Linked DNA regions of Homo sapiens. The protein of the gene in region 1 interacts with the protein of each later gene in a pairwise test. Each region holds a gene or a part of one and is shown in the gene's direction. Other genes may lie near its edges.

The links.
Region 2: the proteins of MAPK13 (region 1) and FPR1 interact in binary tests that used the Homo sapiens proteins (3 or more experiments, as listed by UniProt).

The regions. Positions count from the first base shown.
Region 1 is NC_000006.12:36,137,013-36,140,822, forward strand, and holds part of MAPK13 (mitogen-activated protein kinase 13), read left to right. Parts: intron 1-1,352; coding exon 1,353-1,432; intron 1,433-1,689; coding exon 1,690-1,768; intron 1,769-1,866; coding exon 1,867-2,043; intron 2,044-2,281; coding exon 2,282-2,361; 3' UTR 2,362-3,810. UniProt on the Homo sapiens protein: Serine/threonine kinase which acts as an essential component of the MAP kinase signal transduction pathway.
Region 2 is NC_000019.10:51,748,896-51,753,475, reverse strand, and holds the start of FPR1 (fMet-Leu-Phe receptor), read left to right. Parts: upstream 1-1,597; 5' UTR 1,598-1,662; intron 1,663-3,222; exon of another isoform or gene 3,223-3,273; intron 3,274-4,580. UniProt on the Homo sapiens protein: High affinity receptor for N-formyl-methionyl peptides (fMLP), which are powerful neutrophil chemotactic factors. Binding of fMLP to the receptor stimulates intracellular calcium mobilization and superoxide anion release.

The DNA.
Region 1 (3,810 bases):
TTAAATAACTGTCTTTTTTTTCTTAATGTGAGAGTGATACATACTCCCTGTAGAATAATTTGTAAATGCAGATAAGGCTGGACGCAGTGGTTCATGCCTGTAATCCCAGCACTTTGGGAGGCTGAGGTGGAAGGATCCTTTGAGCCCAGGAGTTTGAGACCAGATGTGGCAACATAGGGAGACCCCATCTCTAAAAAAGTTTTTTAAATTAGCCAGACATGGGCCTGGCGCAGTGGCTCATGTCTGTAATCCCAGCACTCTGGGAGGCTGAGGCGGGCAGATCATGAGGTCAGGAGATCGAGACCATCCTGGCTAACAAGGGGAAACCCCGTATCTACTAAAAATACAAAAAATTAGCCAGGCGTGGTGGCAGGCGCCTGTAGTCCCAGCTACTCAGGAGGCTGAGGCAGGAGAATGGCGTGAACCCAGGAGGTGGAGCTTGCAGTGAGCTGAGATCGCGCCACTGCACTCCAGCCTGGGTGACAGAGCAAGACTCTGTCTCAAAAAAAAGAAAAAGAAAAATCCCAGCTACTTGAGAGGCTGAGGTGGGAGGGTTGAGCCTGGGAGGTTGAGGCTGCAGTGAGCTATGATTGTGCCACTGTACTCCAGCCTGGGTGACAGAGGGAGACCCTAACTCAAAAAAAAAAAAAAAAAAAACAAAATGTTGGGTGGGCATGGTGGCTCACACCTATAATCCCAGCACTTTGGGAGGCCATGGCAGGCGGATCACCTGAGATTAGGAGTTCGAGACCAGCCTGGCCAACGTGGTCAAACCCCATCTCTACCAAAAAATACAAAAATTAGCCGGGTGTGGTTCACGCCTGTAATCCCAGCTACTCGGGAGGCTGAGGCAGGAAAATCGCTTGAACCCAGGAGGTGGAGGTTGCAGTGAGCCAAGACTGTGCCACTGCACTCCAGCCTGAGTGACAGAGTGAGACCCTGTCTCAAAAAAAAAAAAAAAAAAAAAATGTAGATAAGCAAAATGATGAAAAATTCTACCACTACGTGGAAAATACATTTTGGCACGGCACACATTAACTGAGTACCTGTGTGTGCAGGGCAGGCCTTTGGTGAGAAGACGAGGAAACAGAAAAGAGTCACTGGGATGAAGGCTGAGAAGTCCACATCCATTTGTTGGGTAGGGACCCCCCTCAGCCTGGCACGTTGGAAAGCTCTCCAGAGCCCTGAGCCCTGAAGAATAAGCCTCCTCCTGAGAGCAGGAGGTGGTTAGGCAGGGCTGGAGCCTGGATGATCAGTTGCCATGGTGCCCGGGTGAAGTGATGGTGGGGTCGCAGGAAGGGCAGTCTCAGACCCACCAGGAGAGCAAGGCTAAGCCTTAACCTGCCACCAAGACCTGGACCAGCTGACCCAGATCCTGAAAGTGACCGGGGTGCCTGGCACGGAGTTTGTGCAGAAGCTGAACGACAAAGCGGTGGGTGGTAAATGGGACCTAGGCTGGCCTGGGCTGTGTGCTTGCCTGACGTGGGCCCAGTGGGCTGCAGGCCTTTGTGGAAGAAGGCTCACCAGCACCTTCCCACAGCATCCTCCTACCCTGGCAGGCACTCTTGTCTTAATCTCACCGTGGACCCTGACCTGAACTTTCAGCCCTGCTCTGAGGCTTTTCTGAAATCCCTGCTCTACACGCTGAGGCCAGAGCCCTAAGGGGTTTGATGCTTTTCTGTCTTCCAGGCCAAATCCTACATCCAGTCCCTGCCACAGACCCCCAGGAAGGATTTCACTCAGCTGTTCCCACGGGCCAGCCCCCAGGGTGAGTCTCAGAGCCCGCTCCCCAGGGGCCTCTCAGCGTATCCCAGAGGGCGGGCTCTCCCAGCCCCTGGTGTGAGGCTCTTGGCTCTGCCCCTGCAGCTGCGGACCTGCTGGAGAAGATGCTGGAGCTAGACGTGGACAAGCGCCTGACGGCCGCGCAGGCCCTCACCCATCCCTTCTTTGAACCCTTCCGGGACCCTGAGGAAGAGACGGAGGCCCAGCAGCCGTTTGATGATTCCTTAGAACACGAGAAACTCACAGTGGATGAATGGAAGCGTAAGAGCTGGGGCCTCGGGCTTCCTCGCCTCCGCCTGCAGCCTCTCTTCCTTGCTTCCTCCATCTTTGTGCCTGGCCTCTGCCAGCCCTACCTGCCACCTCCTTCTTGGTGGGCATTGTCTCCTGGGTGCTTCTTTCTCCTTGAGCTGACTTCGCTCTCCATGCTGTCTCTGAAGGGGGGTGGACTTTCTCGCCACAGCACCTCTTTACGCACCTTAAACCATGCTGCCTTTCTCAGAGCACATCTACAAGGAGATTGTGAACTTCAGCCCCATTGCCCGGAAGGACTCACGGCGCCGGAGTGGCATGAAGCTGTAGGGACTCATCTTGCATGGCACCGCCGGCCAGACACTGCCCAAGGACCAGTATTTGTCACTACCAAACTCAGCCCTTCTTGGAATACAGCCTTTCAAGCAGAGGACAGAAGGGTCCTTCTCCTTATGTGGGAAATGGGCCTAGTAGATGCAGAATTCAAAGATGTCGGTTGGGAGAAACTAGCTCTGATCCTAACAGGCCACGTTAAACTGCCCATCTGGAGAATCGCCTGCAGGTGGGGCCCTTTCCTTCCCGCCAGAGTGGGGCTGAGTGGGCGCTGAGCCAGGCCGGGGGCCTATGGCAGTGATGCTGTGTTGGTTTCCTAGGGATGCTCTAACGAATTACCACAAACCTGGTGGATTGAAACAGCAGAACTTGATTCCCTTACAGTTCTGGAGGCTGGAAATCTGGGATGGAGGTGTTGGCAGGGCTGTGGTCCCTTTGAAGGCTCTGGGGAAGAATCCTTCCTTGGCTCTTTTTAGCTTGTGGCGGCAGTGGGCAGTCCGTGGCATTCCCCAGCTTATTGCTGCATCACTCCAGTCTCTGTCTCTTCTGTTCTCTCCTCTTTTAACAACAGTCATTGGATTTAGGGCCCACCCTAATCCTGTGTGATCTTATCTTGATCCTTATTAATTAAACCTGCAAATACTCTAGTTCCAAATAAAGTCACATTCTCAGGTTCCAGGTGGACATGAATTCCAGGGGGAAATGATTCAACTCACTACAGACAGCTGGGAGGGAGGGGCCCCTTCCTGGGCCCCGTGCTGAGGCCTTGTGCTCTGTGAAGGAACCCAATGTGTTTGGCTGCTAAATTAAGGGAGTTGCAGAGAGAGCTGCAGCTGGTGCGATTGCATTCAGGTTATTTTGGGTGAGTGATAAGCAATCAAGATATGAAACAACAGCAGGCTCGGAGACTGCGAGCTGCACAGGCAGAAATGGGCTCTTGCCTGGCTTGATGGCAAACCGTTCTGCTCCCTTTGGGAGATGGCACAGCTCTCCAGAGCTTTGACCTGACAGTGGCTAGAACCTCTCTGTTTTTATCTGAGAAACTTTGGCAGAACAAATTTCCATGTGCACAAGCTGTCGGGCACAGTGGGTCTCAAATTTCCTTGTGCACCAGGGGACTTGTTAAAATGCAGATTCCTGGGCCCCACCCCAGGGCTTGTGACTCAGCAGGTCTGCAGTTGAGACCTTAGAATGTGCATTTGAATGAGGACCTCTCGCCCTGACCCAAGCCTAGTGATTCTGATGGATATCAGACCATAGTTCGAGACATTTAGTGGATTTCAGTCATACTTGATTTGTTGGGAGGCCTAAATCAAAAACCTATAGGAGGAGACTGGGGGGCTTCAGATGGAGTTTCACACTCATCTTACAGGTGTTAAAACTGAGGCTCAGAAAGCTTTTTTTTGTTTGTTTGTTTGAGACAGGGTCTGGCTCTGTCACCCGGGC
Region 2 (4,580 bases), on another chromosome or scaffold:
CCATCTGGGAGTGATGGGAGACAGTGACAGATCATCAGGCATTAGATTCTCATAAGGAGCACACAACCCAGATCCCTGGCATGCACAGTTCACAGTAGGGTTCACACTGTTATGAGAATCTAATGCCGCCACTAATCTGACAGGAGGCAGAGCTCAGGCAGTAATGCCAGCAATGGGGAGTGGCTATAAATACAGATGAAGCTTCTCTTGCTCACCTGCCAGTCACCTGCTGTGCAGCCCACTTCCTAACAGGCCACAGACCGGTATCGGTCTGTGTATTGGTCTATGGCCTGGAGGTTGGGGACCCCTGCTGTAATGTGAAGTCAGGAGCTGTGGTAGCTTTCTTGGAGCCATGAAGTGGCAATCCCCAGGAAAAAAAGTCACCATATTAGGGATAAAAAAGAGAAAAGATTAAAATGAATGTAGTTCTTGATGATATTTTCCAGATATAACCTAACCTAGTATTACCCTCTTGCAAAATTCTTGTAAAGTAAACCATAAATTTCGTCTTGGTTCTAAGCTAAGCTTGTCCAGCCCATGGCCTAAGATGGCTTTGAATGCAGCCCAACACAAATTCATAAACTTTCTTAAAACATTATCAGATTTTTGGGGGATTTTTTTTTTTTTTTTTTTTTTTAGCTCATCAGGTATCGTTAGTGTTAGTGTATTTTATGTGTGGCCCAAGACAATTCTTCTTCTTCCAGTGTGGCCCAGGGAAGGCAAAAGATTGGACACCCCTTGTTGAAGCCATTGTTAGGTGTAATTGTAAATTATAAATTACTTAGAATTAAAAACAGCCCGGCTCATGCCTGTAATCCCAGCATTTGGGGAGGCTGAGGCAGGAGGATCACTAAACCCAGGGGTCTGAGACATGCCTGGGCAACGTAGCAGGATACTGTCTCTAAAAGAAAAGAAAAAACAGTCTTAATGCAACAATGCCTTGGTAATAATGCTTTTAGAATCAGTGTCGTTATCTCTGATTCTGTAACTGTCTTACCATATTTCTCCATATCACTCTGATACCCTTGGAAGGATGCTTAACATTTCAGAAAAACGGTTATTTCTTTGGGCTAGAAGACTACAAATGAGCTTCCACAAGATCAGAGGATTATGGGGTTAATCTTGGTGGTGTGCATGGGTGTGGACGCGCTGTCCTGCCAACTGTCTCAACTTCCCCCACTCCCTTACCTCTCTCTGTGTTTCTGGTCTCCATCCCTCATGACTTCTTCTCTTCCTTTCATTGCCTCCCTCTGATTCTTCTCACCACAGTGCTTGCTGCTTTCTTTACCTTGACCCTTGGAGGGAGCAGGGGCCCGGACACTTGGATTTCTTGGCCCTTGTTGTTGAGAGCACTGAACCTCTGCATCCCACAGAGACTGAGGCTGAGAAATACAGTCAGGTACATGAGTTTCTAAACAGGCCCAGCCCACTGTCCTAATGCCATTAAAGCAGACAGTATATTGGTGTATTCTTGGGGCCATCAAAAATCAGAAGAAGCTCAGACTTCCTATTTCCTGCTACCCAGCTGGTTTTAGTTCCTTTACCCCTCCTCCTGTTCCTTGGTGTATGTTTTGCTGCAATCATTAGAGCCTGAGTCACTCTCCCCAGGAGACCCAGACCTAGAACTACCCAGAGCAAGACCACAGCTGGTGAACAGTCCAGGTAAGAAACATATTCTGGGGGACTGGGTAGCTTGACATAGACACACTTAATACACTGGTGAACACAATAGACTCTTTGTTTGAAGAAGGATGTGGAGTTGAAGAATAATTTTTTTAAAGAGGTTCTAAACAGGCCGGGCACGGTGACTCATGCTTGTAATCCCAGCACTTTGGGAGGCCAAGGCAGGTGGATAACTTGAGGTCAGGAGTTCGAGACCAGCCTGGCCAACATGTTGAAACCTCACTTCTATTAAAAATACAAAAATTAGCCAGGCGTGGTGGTGGGCGTCTGTAATTCAAGCTACTTGGGAGGCTGAGGCAGGAGAATTGCTTGAATCTGGGAGGTGGAGGTTGCAGTGAGCTCAGATTGCACCACTGTACTCCAGCCTAGGTGACAGAGTGAGACTCCATCTCAAATAAATAAGTAAATAAATAAATAAACAAATAGGCTCTAGACTTTATTGGGGTCCTGATGGGAATGATGGAATATAGAGACACTATGAGGCTGCAGGAGAGAGAAGGGATAAGTGAAGGAGGGAAGTTCTTGAGTAAATGGGGGAATGAGTTTTATGGGACCAGTAGAGGGTAATTCTTGGATGGAAACACTTGTTTTCTGGTTACAGAGATGAGGGCAGAGAACAGTGATGCAGGAGCCAGCAGGAGGAGAATCTGGTGGAGCAAGAGGCAAGGGCATCAGCTTGAGGGCTTGAGTCGGGATGGGAAAGGATGTTTGGTTTGAAGCTTTCAGGAGAAAGCAAAAGAGCCCTAACGACTTTATGATGGGTCATGGGGAAATGAGTGTAATACAGAAGCAGTCACCTTTCGGATCAGTGATGAGTCTCCACGTGAAGACACTGGTTCTGCATGGTGCATAGGACCCAGTAGCGGAATACAGCCCTGCCCTCTCATGAATCTGCAGACATTGGCTGTCATTTCTCATCAAGCTCCTAGTTTCCTCTTCCGTCACACAGGGATGATGATGTATAATCAATGCTGAGTTTGTTGAGATCAGAGGCAAGAAAGTTGAGGATGTGGTACAATGATTATCAAGCATAAAGTCCTTCATCGATGGCAGCCACCAAGGCCTGTGTTCATTGCAAATCACAGGATTTTTCCCTTGAACCATAATTGGACAAAATTGCACAGGTTTTCCTCTCTGGTATGTTCCAGCTCATTATTGCAGAATCCTCATCATTCATTGCAACAATCTTCTGAACTGGTTGCCTTAGAGATTCTTGAGGACAAAGAGTCCTCAGGGTATTTTGGTGGTTGGATGGGTGGTAGGGGAGGGAGACATCTCTGAGTTGTTTCTGAGATTGTAGAGTATCAAAGTTCATTAGAAATGTGAGACACATATGTAATTTCAAAGTGTCAAGTAGGCACTTTAAAAAGGTGAAGAGAAACATGCGAACTTAATTTTAATAAAATATCTAACCTAAACTTAAATAGCCAAATTATTATCATTTTAACATGTAGTCAATATAAAAACTATTAATGAGATGGTCACAATATTTTTTTCATACTAAGTCTTTGAAATCTGATGGGTATTTTACTCCTACAGCCTGTCTCCAGTTGGACTAGCCACAATTCAAGTGCTTGAAAACCACATGTGGTGAGTGACTAGTGCATTAGACAGCTCTTCTGTGCCAGTAGCGTGGCAGGGCAGAGGCAGAAAGAGACTTTTGCTGGAATTCGACAGCCTGGGCTGTTGGGTGACTTTAAGGAATTAACTGAAATGCTCTAAGTCGCACTTTCCTCGTCTGCAAAATGGGTACCATAAAGACAGTGACCCTCATAGTAACAATTTTGAGGAAGGCTGCTGCAAGCATTAGAAGAGAAGACCAGGCCGGGCGCAGTGGCTCACACCTGTAATCCTAGCACTTTGGGAGGCTGAGGCAGGTGGACTGCCTGAGCTCAAGAGTTTGAGACCAGCCTGGGCAACATGGTGAAACCCCATGTCTACTAAAATACAATTAAAAAGAAAAATTAGCCAGGCACGGCGGCGTGCACCTGAAATCCCAGCTACTCAGGAGGCTGAGACAGGAGAATTGCTTGAACCTGGGAGGCGGAGGTTGCAGTGAGCTCAGATCACGCCACTGCACTCCAGCCTGGGTGATAGAGAGAGACTCCATCTCAAAATAAATAAATAAATAAAATAAAATAAATTAAAAAAAAGAGAGAAGGCCAGCTCTCAGCAAGAACCTGACATGCACTTTGCATACCTGATCTAATGAAATGTCATATCCAATACATATTTGGACTATTATTTCTATCACGGTCTTCTACATCCCCAAGAGTGCTGAGCCCATCCAATGGATGGAGAAGCACCTCCCATCCATCTGGCCAAGGTAACCGCAGAGACGAGAGTGGAAACAGAGTCTGTTGTTCTGACTTCTTCTAGCACAGAATCCATTGGATATAATACTTGATTATACGTCGTTTAGTATCACTCACGGATCCATTTGACCTATGTTGGAAAACTAACCAAGTACTATGCCTTGCTTCCCACGATGAGAGAGGAAAGGGAGATTTCATGACCTTAAAGAGAGAGAGCGAGCAGAATTTGGAGTGGAGAAGTTGCATATCTTTTTTTTTTTTTTGAAACGGAGTCTCGCTCTGTCGCCCAGGCTGGAGTGCAATGGCGCAGTCTCTGCTCACTGCAACCTCCGCCTCCCACGTTCAAGTGATTCTCCTGCCTCAGCCTCTGGAGTAGCTGGGACTAAAAGCACCCACCGCCATGCCTGGCTAATTTTTGTATTTTTAGTAGAGATGGGGCTTCTCCATGTTGGCCAGGCTGGTCTCGAACTGCTAACCTCATGATCCACCCGCCTCGGCCTCCCAAGGTACTGGGATTACAGGCGTGAGCCACTGCGCCTGGCTGAGAAGTTGCATACCTTATAGTTCTTATGCAGTGTTATG